Regions from separate parts of the Homo sapiens genome. Here region 1 is linked to region 2. Evidence: fine-mapped expression QTL. A gene starts in region 2. The other region holds a variant in brackets. All regions are shown on one strand. Distances are between the middles of the regions.

Evidence for each region. PIP is the estimated chance that this variant, and not a neighbour inherited with it, causes the effect.
Region 1: its variant is fine-mapped to the expression of CERK in whole blood (INTERVAL, PIP above 0.99).

What each region holds. Positions count from the first base shown.
Region 1 is chr22:46,682,326-46,687,688 of GRCh38, forward strand. It overlaps CERK (ceramide kinase), which reads right to left. Exons shown (of 13, transcript NM_022766.6): 13 at 2,085-4,881. The coding sequence ends at 4,809. It also overlaps a transcript of GRAMD4 not described here. Among named protein-coding and RNA genes, the nearest start is that of CERK, 53 kb to the right of the region's middle. RefSeq lists an enhancer at 1,205-1,706 and a silencer at 3,987-4,281. The variant GGGCACAGGCA/G (reference allele first, on the strand shown) is at 3,185.
Region 2 is chr22:46,734,832-46,740,194 of GRCh38, forward strand. CERK (ceramide kinase) reads right to left here and starts at 3,421. Exons shown (of 13, transcript NM_022766.6): 1 at 3,176-3,421. The coding sequence starts at 3,317. It overlaps LOC105373077 (a long non-coding RNA gene), which reads right to left and starts at 1,561. Exons shown (of 2, transcript XR_001755593.2): 1 at 1,472-1,561; 2 at 1-677. RefSeq lists enhancers at 1,233-1,806, 2,494-2,663, 3,902-4,560, 3,934-4,263 and a silencer at 2,814-3,773.

The sequences.
Region 1 (5,363 bases), 53 kb before region 2:
GCTGGACCATGCACGATTGTAAAGAAGACATTCAGCTGTTACTATCTGTAAATGATATGATGACAGAAAACCCCGAAATTCACAGGTAAATCATCATCATAGGAGTGTGGAAGCTGCTGGTACAAAATGAGTCAGGGGAGGCCGTGAAGAAGCTCTCGAAGACCTGCCTGTAGCAGAACTCACCCCAGAACCCTCGGGACTGCGACGAGGGCGCCCGCCCAGTGACGGCCACTCCTGCGGTGAACAGTACTGCCTCCTGCCAGGAGCTGCTGTGACCTGTGAACTTCGTTCTAGAGCAGCTTACATGGACTTCTTTGCCTTTTAAAGTGTTGCCTTTATCGCGAACACCCCCCAAAATGCCTTCCAGTGTAGCACGCATATCCTGACTGCAATCCCCTTGCTGTTCCTGAATAAACTCTTTCTTAGGAGAACACTCTGATGTCACTTTAGGTTGACGGGAGGCAAGGTTTCTGGATATAACCCAACACATAAAAAACAATTGTGGCGGGCAGATCACGAGGCCAGGAGTTTGAGACCAGCCTGGACAACATGGGGAAACCCCATCTCTACTAAAGATACAAAAAACTAGCTGGGCATGGTGGCATGCACCTATAATGCTAGCTACTTGGGAGGCTGAGGCAGGAGAATCACTTGAACCCCGGAGGCAGAGGTTGCAGTGAGCCGAGATCACACCATTGTACTCCAGCCTGGGCAACAGGGCGAGACTCCGTCTCATAACAAACAAAAAATTGCATTTCTATGCAAAACAAAACAAATTTTAAGATAGCCTCAAAGGCCAAGTGTGGTGGCTCACGCCTGTAATCCCAGCGCTTTGGGAGGCCAAGATGGGAGGTTCACTTGAGGCCAGGAGTTTGAGACCAGGCTGGGCAACATGGTGAGACCCTATCTTTACAAAACATTAAAAAGCCTCAAAATAAGAACTTTTGGCTGGGCACAGTAGCTTACTCCTGTAATCCCAGCAGTTTGGAAGGCTGAGGCAGGAGGATTGCTTGAGCCCGGGAGTTCGAGACCAGCCTGGGTAACAGAGTGAGACCCCTGTCTCTACAAAAAATTTTAACAAAATAGCCAGGCATGGTGTTGCACGCCTGTAGTCCCAGTTACTCAGGAGGCTGAGGTGGGATTGCTTCAGTCTGAGAGATTGAAGTTACAGTGAGCCGTGATCACGCCACTGTACCCCAGCCTGAGCAACTGAATAAGACCTTGTTTAAAACAAGGTTAAAAACAAACAAAAGTCAAGTTTTAGGAATAAATCTAAAAATTTAAAGACTTTCATGGAAAAAATTATAAAATAATTAAAAGACATGAATGAGGATCTTTCATGGACCAGAAAAGTCAGTTTCACAATGCAAATGTCCTTTCGAAGTTCCTCAAATACAAATGCAAATGCCCTCTCAAACATGTGGAGTGGGCCGGGCGCAGTGGCTCACGCCTGTAATCCCAGCACTTTGGGAGGTCGAGGCTGGTGGATCACGAGGCCAGGAGCTCGAGACCATCCTGGCTAACACAGTGAAACCCCGTCTCTACTAAATATACAAAAAATTAGCTGGGCGTGGTGGCGGGCACCTGTAGTACCAGCTACTCCGGAGGCTGAGGCAGGAGAATGGCGTGAACCCAGGAGGCGAGCTTGCAGTGAGCCAAGATTGTAGTGAGCCGAGATTGCGCCACTGCACTCCAGCCTGGGTGACAGAGCGAAACTCCGTCTCAAAATAAATAAATAAATAAAAATAGACATGTGGAGTGAAAGAAGCAAGTTACAGAAAACAACACGTTTCCTTTGGATAAGGAGCAAAACCTGCAAAACTAAACTCGCTGTTGCAGATACAGCCATGGACAGAGGCAGGAAGGGATGCGCTTGGCGTGACCTCGTAGCGCCCTCCCAGGGGGAGCGGGGGGACTCCAGAGCAGGGCACAGAAGGCTTCGGGGCGGCGTTCAGTTGCCTGGCATAGGTGGTGGTGACACCTTGCTTCATTTTATTCTTGTTCTTTAAATTGTGTGTGTTTTCATGAAAAATATTCTGCTTTGAAAATAACAGGTATGTGTAAAGGAAAGAAAGCAAGCCAAGTCTGCCCAAGTAACTTTATTCGTGTCTTCTCAAACATTTCAGATCAAATAATGCCATTTTCTAATCTTGAAACCAGCAAGATTAGAAAGAGAATGAGGCCATCCTTTCACTCAGACTTTCCCAGTTACTCAAGATTGTATTCAGGAACGAAGTCAAACTCGGCCTCACTTCTTAATTAGAATAAACTAGAATCAGGTCCATTGCATAACTGCTAATTGTTTTGCACCAGGGAGCCACAAAGGAAGCTAAAACTAGCCTTTCTAAGTTATCCTAAGTTTTTACTATCTAACCAGCACTTCTGATTTTTTTTCCCTTAAAACTCTAAAGTACAGGTGTTGTATGTCTGCCGCATCTGAAAGGCTGCCCCGGAAATCAGAGCCTATCTAGCGGGAATGTCTGGGCAGTCACCCCCATCCTGCGCGCAGATAGCAAAGGGCTGCTGGCAGGTGTCAGACACACGGTACCGCAACAGCAGTCCCGAGGTCTGAGATTCTGAATGTCAGCAGGTGGCTGGAGAGTATCACCAGAGCCACTCAGGAACCAGCCATGCGGAATGGCTGGGTTTCTTATTGAACATGAAATGCTTCCTCTTTGGCCTGGACTGTTTTGCTAAAATTGTTAGTGGGTTTTGGGGCAGGCCAGTGTATGGGAAACTTTTTTTTTTGTTGGGGGGGGCGATGGAGTCTCCCTCTGTTTGCCCAGGCTGGAGTGCAGTGGCGCAATCTTGGCTCACCGCAACCTCCACCTCTTTCTTGGGTTCAAGCGATTCTCCTGCCTCAGCATCCCTAGTAGCTGAGATTACAGGCGTGCGCCAACAAGACTGGCTAAGTTGTGTATTTTTAGTAGAGACGAGGTTTCACCATGTTGGGCAGGCTGATCTCAAACTCCTGACCTTAGGTGATCCACCCGCCTCGGCCTCCCAAAGTGCTGGGATTACAGGCGTGAGCCACCGCGCCCAGCCGGGAAACATTTACCAGGGACAATAAAGGCTTAGAAGAACCTTTTGGGGAAACTTTGTGAGGAGCACAATTCCAGAGGGCCCACAGCAGCCACAGCCTCCTGGCGTGACACCAGGCACACTGCCGGCTGCACAGGTTGCT[GGGCACAGGCA/G]GGCACAGCCAGTCTGGAAGAGCAGCCCGTCTTAAATCTTTGGTTTCTTTCCAACCAGGAGCAAACATTGGTAGAAAGAGCCAGGGCATATTTACTCTTTACACCCAGAATTTTCATTCATTATTGAACCATTTGGCTTGCACAGTGCTCTCTGATAATGTGGTCCATAAAAACCACCATTAAAGCTGCCCTTTCACCTGATCTGGGTGGGGCTAAACGAGGAAACGAGAAGTTTCCTGTATGCTTCAAAATATAAATCAATGCCAGGAAATTCTGAAAATGGATGCTGCCTGTTAAACATGAAATCACTAAGGGAGCTTCTGCAAAACCCACCCGGCAGCATGAGGAACGGTGTCTACAGCGTGCTCCAAACGGCCACGGCCCCGCTCCTTACAGATCAAAGTTTAAGCCGCATATTCTCATATTTCAAACAAAACTACGTTACAGACATCATCTACGTGGGCACGGATACACACTAAACAAGGACGTAGTACACAATTGAGGGGTGCCCCGGGGAGCGCGGCAGGAATGCCTTCCGGGAAGAATCCTCTGGTCGCCGGAGCCCTCGCGCTGCAGAGGAAACCAGCGATCCATCGTGGCTTCGAGGCAAAAGACAGACATCCGAGACGCAGTTTACACTACTCTGGCTTAAAAGGACAAGATGTTCAATAAATATAGAGAACTCAGTGTGAAGAAAAGACAAGGACAAATCTGGACCACGTGTACAGACTTCAGGCCCTGCCTCAGAGGAGTCCTGCGGGAGTCCAGGACCGGCCCCTCCTCCACGGATGGCCAGCTTCCTCCTGACTGCCCCCAAGCCCGGCTGTGTTAAGCACTTCGCGTCGATATAAAGCATTGGTATTTGACATTTTAACAGTAACAAACTTGCCAGTGCTTTACACACTGCCAGCTTCCAGAGCTTATCATCCGTGCTCCCAGAACAGACGCCAAGGTCATGCTCCCAGCCGGATTGTCGTAGCCTCGCCGCCGTGATGAGGCAGGTGTGGAGGCCCCAGCAGCCTTCCCGGCGCTGGCGTGGAGGCCCCTCCCGCGGATCACCTGAAGCAGGGCCACGTTGCATTGCAGTTGCACAGTATTGTAAGGATCAAGCAGCGATGTCCTAACCGTAAACGAAGAGGAAGGTGAAATGAAGGCAAAGAGAATCAACCACTTCCCAAAACTTGGCCACAAACCGTTACAGAATAAGTCCTGCAAAGTGGATCAAAGTGACCCACTGCTACCTCAGGCCCAGATGGTGTGACCTGCGTGGAAATCATATAATGTCCCTAACATTATTGCAATAGAGCCACTAACGGGCCATTTTCTAAACTACACTGTTGACATCGTTAAAACCTAAGAGGCCAGTGCCCCCAAGTGAGCAGCTGCATCCGCTGAGAGTAAGCGGCGTGGGCTGCAACCCGCAGATGCGTACAGAACTGAAAATGCCAAATATGTACACAAAATTGTTGACAAAAGGGTTTTCTTCTAAAATCAAGATTTAACTATCAAAAATAAATTTCTACATTTAAATGTATATATCAACATAATTGGTCTGTAATAATTATCTTAAATAGTTTTCACACTTTCCCAGTTTGTGAGCAGGACGCCGGCTTCTCAGCTGTGTGAGTCTGGCTTCGGATTCTCTTCAATTCCTCGTGCAAAGAGTCGAACCAGCTGGCAGTGGACTCTGCAGAGACAAGCGGCCACGTGTAAACCCCACGTGTCCCTCACTCAAAGCTGGCCTGAGCCCCACTCCTGGACAGGGGCTGCAGTAAACCCCACGTGTCCCTCACTCAAAGCTGGCCCTGAGCACCGCTCTTGGACAGGGGCTGAAGTGGGGGTCCATCCCCCATGGAACGGTCAGACGTCACCGTGGGCTGTAGGAGTCCAGCCCACAATGACGGGCCCTGGGCGTGGAATAATTCACTTAGACTCCCGGGATGCCGAGTTTGTAAAGGGGTTGCCAATGGCCAGGTGGGAAATCTGGGCATCGGTAGACCTGACTCGAACTCCAGCACCCCCATGGAAAGCAGAGCGTCCGCTCCAGTGTCTGCCCACTCCACCCACCCACCCACCTCCATTTTCTCAGCAGTACTGAGCGCGCAAGGCCTGCGAGGAGTCTGTGCGGGGCGACTCAATGCGTGTAAGAGATGTGTGAGGAATGCTCAG
Region 2 (5,363 bases):
GATATTATTAAATCAACATGACTTACTTTTGTAAGCAGGAAAAACATTTTTTTAAAGTATCTGTGGCATGCCTATGTTTTGCCAGGCACTTTGCAGGGTGTGCTGAGGACACGCTTTATAAACACAGTACTGACCTGCCCAACGAGTTCACCACCAGCCTGGGACATCCCAAGTGGGGTTGGTGGAAGGAAGGGGAGGATCCTCCCACAAAGGTAGAGCCTGGGCAGTAGTCCCCTCACCCCCCAACACACACACACACACACACACACTCTTCCCATTCCCAACTCTAAAGGAATAAATGCAGGGTTTGTCTAAGTGTGTTTTGCGACAGTCAGGGGAAATAACCCAGATATCAACTCAGTGTTTCCAGTTCAACGAGCATGACCCACTTCAAGTTCCTGTTTTCGTCCTGCCCTACTTCCCACCAGGCTGGCGGCCCAGGGCACTTGCTGTCGCGGCTTCCTCAGGTGCAGACCTCACCCAGGCCCAGGAAGCTGCAGCGATCCAAATTGCTAGTCCTTGTCTGTGCTCTTGTACAGTCAGTCACTGTCCCAGCATGATGACCCACTGACGAAAGTGCACGTGCCTGGGTTCAAAGCCAGCTCCCTCTGTACATCACTGCCTCTGGGCCCAGTCAATTCCCACTCCTACTGTCCACATCTGAAATAGGGGTGATGCTACGGAGAAAACAAAGGAGTCGGAATAACTAAGCGGCCACCCCAGCAGGGCACACACAGTGGCCTTGGCTTTGTCTTTAGCCCATTGGTCACCTGGAGCTCCAGGGCTGCTCCTGCCTCATCTCACAGGTCCTCCTAGGGCCAGTTTTTGCACAATTCTCCACCTCTCATCATTCCTCAACCTAATCAATCCCAGTGTGCCCAGATACACCTGGGGGAATGGGGAGGGCTGGGCAATGCCACCTTGCTGACCAAATTAAATGTCCTGTGAGCTGGTTCACATTCTTCTGCCCTACTATGGCCCTACTGACCTCAAGCATAGAAGAATCGAACCTGGGCCTGATTCCTTTTGGGGACTGTAAAGCTATGAGAAAAAAACTAGAGACAGTGTGGCTGTATTCCTGAACTCATTCACAACTTAGCGTTTCCCAACTTGTTGATGTTTTCCCATTGCATGGGAGAGCACTCCTGGGTGGAGAGGGCAGGCTGCTTCCTGGAGGAAGCCCACCAGCCAGGGCCACCAGCCAGGGCCCCACCATCCATGGCCCCACAAACCAGGGCCCTCCCTCTCCAAGAGGGACCAAGCTCCTGGCAGGCCAGTCAGGCAGCTCAGGATGAACCCGCACAAAAGCACCTTGGCTTAGCAAGAGTGAAGCAATTAGCATGCCAAGAGGCAAACCCCAGCAGGCTGGACAAAAGCAGACGCCACACCACACCAAGCCCTGACCTGGGGGACCAGAAACCATAATGGGAGCTGGCTGGGGACGCCAAGGCAGAAAGCAGTGATGACTGACCTCCCACACAGATGCCCTGTAAGGGTCTGGCGTCTCTGCGGCGGCTGGAGCCTGAGGGAAGCCTTACAGCCCAGTGGCTACAAGCACAGCAGCTAATTGGGCCAGTCACTTCCAGCCCCTGCAGATCGGCCCCTGCATCCCTAGGACGGGAGCAGCTGCCTCTCAGGAACCCATCCGGTTTGAAGCCCAGTGGCCCGCACTTAGGAAGTGCTTGGGGGAGGCAGTCATCTTCCTGAAGCCTAGGGATTTACAACAAAGTACAAACCCTTCGGGCCCAGGTCAGGCACCTGTTCTCCTTGTGTGTGGGCCCTGGTGGGTGATATTTGGGGTGTGACATTTCTACCAAAGGGGACATGAGAAATACCTTAGGAAAGTCAAGTCTCAGATGCCCAGCCACAGATAGGTGACCCCAGGGCTGGAAACCAAGTGTTGGTCATGGGTCTGAGACCACCCCTCGACCTTGGCCCCACCTAACGTTCAACTCTGTCCCCACCAGAACCCAACCCACAGATCCTCACCACTCAGCACCAGAAAGCGCCCAGAAGAACTCCTGACCTCGACTGCCCACAGGGTCTAAAGGTGTCATCCCAGGCTCCGAATATCCACCAGAGAATCTTGGCCTCCGCCACACCCACCCCATTCCAGCTCCGCACATCCAGCATGAATCCTGGCCTCTGCCACACCCACCCCAATAATTAAAAAGAAAAAAGGCTGGGTGCGGTTGCTCACACCTGTAATCCCAGCACTTTGAGAGGCTGAGGTGGGCAGATCACCTGAGGTCAGGAATTCAAGACCAGCCTGGCCAACATGGTGAAACCCTGTCTCTACTAAAATACAAAAATTAGCCGGGCGTAGTAGCGGGCTCCTGTAATCCCAGCTACTCCGAGGCTGAGGCAGGGAGAATTGCTTGAACCCAGGAGGCGGAGGTGCAGTGAGCCAAGATCGTGGCATTGAACTCCAGCCTGGGCAACAGAGCAACACTCCGACTCAAAAAAAAAAAAAAACAAAAAACAAACAAAAAACAACAAAAAACAAAAACAAACCCTCTGTCCTCCTGCAGGGCTCTCTCCAGGGTGGGCTATGCGTCCTCCATGTTTACCAAAGTCACTCTTCTCCTCATCCGGAGGGCCTCTGCGGGGCAAGTAGCCAACCCGTGGCACGGAAACCAATTCCCCCATCCCGAGCAGGGAGCACACCCCACAGAAAGTCAGGGGCCCCTTCTTTAACTTCTTAACAGGAAGTCCTCACCCTGCAAGGGCGCCTCTCAGGTTTCGGATCCCTGCTAAAGAAAAGCATCTGTTCTTGGAGTAAACTGCAATGCGCGCGGTGGGGAGCGCCTGGCACCCCCCCTCGGGATCCATCCACAGTCCGTCTTGTCCAGAGGTGCCCTGCGGACAGACCGCACCGGGGGCCACGACCCCGCGCCCCGGGTCCCACCTCCCCGCGGGGATGGGGCGCCGGCCTCCCCTCCACTGCGCGGCGCTTTGTCCTCGGGTTCCCGGAGCAGACGGCGGCGCACAGCCCGGCCCCTGGCCCCGGCCTCCCTCCCGCCTGCCCCGACCCCTCCCTGGCGCCTGCGCTCCCAGGGCCCCCGGCCTTACCACAGCCGCTCGCTCCCTGCACCCGGTCCCCCCAGCCGGGTCCCCCAAGCCGCCCCCGCTCCCTGGCCAGGTCCGGCCGAACCCGGGCGGCGGCGACACTCACCCGCGCCGGGGGCGCCGGCTCCGGGCCCCGGGCTCCGCCACCAGCGCAGCAGAGCCCGCGCGGGCTCCAGGCTCACGGCGCAGCGCTGCTGCTTCACCCACAGCACGGATTGCAGCGGCTCCGCCGCCCCCGTCGCCCCCATCTCCGCCGCCGGGCTCGTCCGCCAGGCTGGGGGCGCGCGGACGCCGAGGGGCGCCGGACCGTTAGCGGCCCCTGCAGTGGCCCGGGCGGCGGGCGGCGGGCGGCGGGAGGCGGCGCTGCGTCACCCCGTACGCGGGCGGCGGGGACCGCGGAGGGGACGGGCGGGGCGGGGGCGAGGAGGAGGCGTGGGTAGAGGAGGGGCCGGGAGCCAGGGAGAGACGGGGGGACCCGAGAAGGGGAGAAGAGGGAGGAGGAAGGGGCCGGGATGGGGCTGGCCGAGGCCAGGGCGCTGGGGCCGGGAGGCGGCTGCCTTTCTCTCCTCTCTTCTCCGGCGGGTGCCGGGTGCTGAATCTGGCGCTCCCGCGGCCGGCCGGGACTCAGTGGCGCCTTCCGCGCGGGCCTCGGTTCAGGCGGGGTCCGGGCGGCGTGGAAACGCAGTCCTGGCGATCGGGCGCGGCGGGGGGCGGGCCTGGATGGGGGCGCCACGGGCGACGTGACCTTGGGCGGCGGGTGCCCTCTACGATCCTGGCGTCCTGTCGGCCTGGGAGGGGGCCTGCAGCTGGGCCCCGACAGGCAGGTAAGGCTTTCAGGAGGCGGAGGTCTTTTTAGGGGGCGGGGGCGCTGGCCCTTTGAACTGCTCTGGGGCCTGAAGCCACAGAGCAGACAGCTGAGCAGCCGCCCCCGAGCTGGCCCTAGGAACCGGAGCCTGGGCCCCAGACTTGGAGAGACACGGCCCCTGTGGCCCCAATTCACCGCCTCCCCAGGAAGGCCTCCTTGACCCCACAGCTGAAGGAATCACCAGCCTGCAGGGACTCCAGCCCTGCCTTCAGAGCACGCCGTGCGCCTTCATGCAAGCTCCAGTCTCTGCGTCCGCAGTGCTTAACACAGCCCCATAGGAAGCAGCCACAACCTGGTTCGGAGGGCACATCCCTCCCTGATTTATCAGTGAAGACTGTGCTCACAGAGGTTAAGTCACTTGCCCAAGAGCACAGGGCTCCAGTGTGGCAGAGCCTAGGCTCACACTGACACTGCCTGGATGTGACACTGAGGTCTGAGGCCTGCCCCTCCCCTCGGCTCCCCTACCCAGCCCTGCTGCTGCAGGCAGAGGTGAGGTGGGCTAGGTCCACGTGGCCTTGCTGCTGTGCCTGGCACCAGGTGGCAGCATATACAGGTCTTACCCTGCCAGCTCCTTGTGACTGTCTTGTCTATAGGGCGGGAACCAGCCATGAATCATTCCTCCCTGGGAGCCCAGCCCCTGTTCAGGCCATGCAGTGAAGGCCCCAGGACAGTCCTGCAGCCACCGTGGGCCCAGTCAGAGTCCTAGCAGGCAGTACCTGATCGTGGCACACAGTGGGGTGTGCAGCAGCGAGGCCTGCCCAGCCTCCTCCCTCCCTCAGCTGCCGCTCTGAGGCCTGGGAAATGTGGATCTGAAACTTACTTGGAAAGAAAAGCTCATGCCAGTGGCAGGAGGGTGCCGCTGCATGCGAAGAGGGTTGGCAGGCAAGGGTGGCATGGGCAGGGGCCCGAGAGCACCAGCGTCCCTACTGGGGACCCCTTCCCTGGGCCTCCCTGTGCTTAGGCTCCCCGTGCCCCTCCCGGCGTATTCACGTTGCTGTCCCCCGGCTGCACGCCTTGGCTTAAAATCCTGCAGCCAGAGGTGGGGGCCCAGAGACGACTCAGAAGTGCTTAGGCCCCGAAGGAGCTCCGTTGGGGGAGACAGCAACATCAGTTACAAAACACACAGGAGATTCAATGAGGCTGTTAGGGTGGGCCCTCATCCAGCGCGTCCTTACAAGAAGAGGAAATGTTGACCGGGCTCTGTGGCTCACACCTGTAATCCCAGCACTTTGGGAGGCTGAAGCGGGTGGATCACCTGAAGTCAGGCATTGGAGACCATCCTGGTCAACATGGTGAAACCCTGTCTCTACTAAAAATACAAAAATTAGCTGGGTGCAGTGGTGCGCTCCTGAATCCCAGCTACTCCGGAAGCTGAGGCAGGAGAATTGCTTGAACCCAGGTGAGCTGAGATTGCGCCATTGCACTCCAG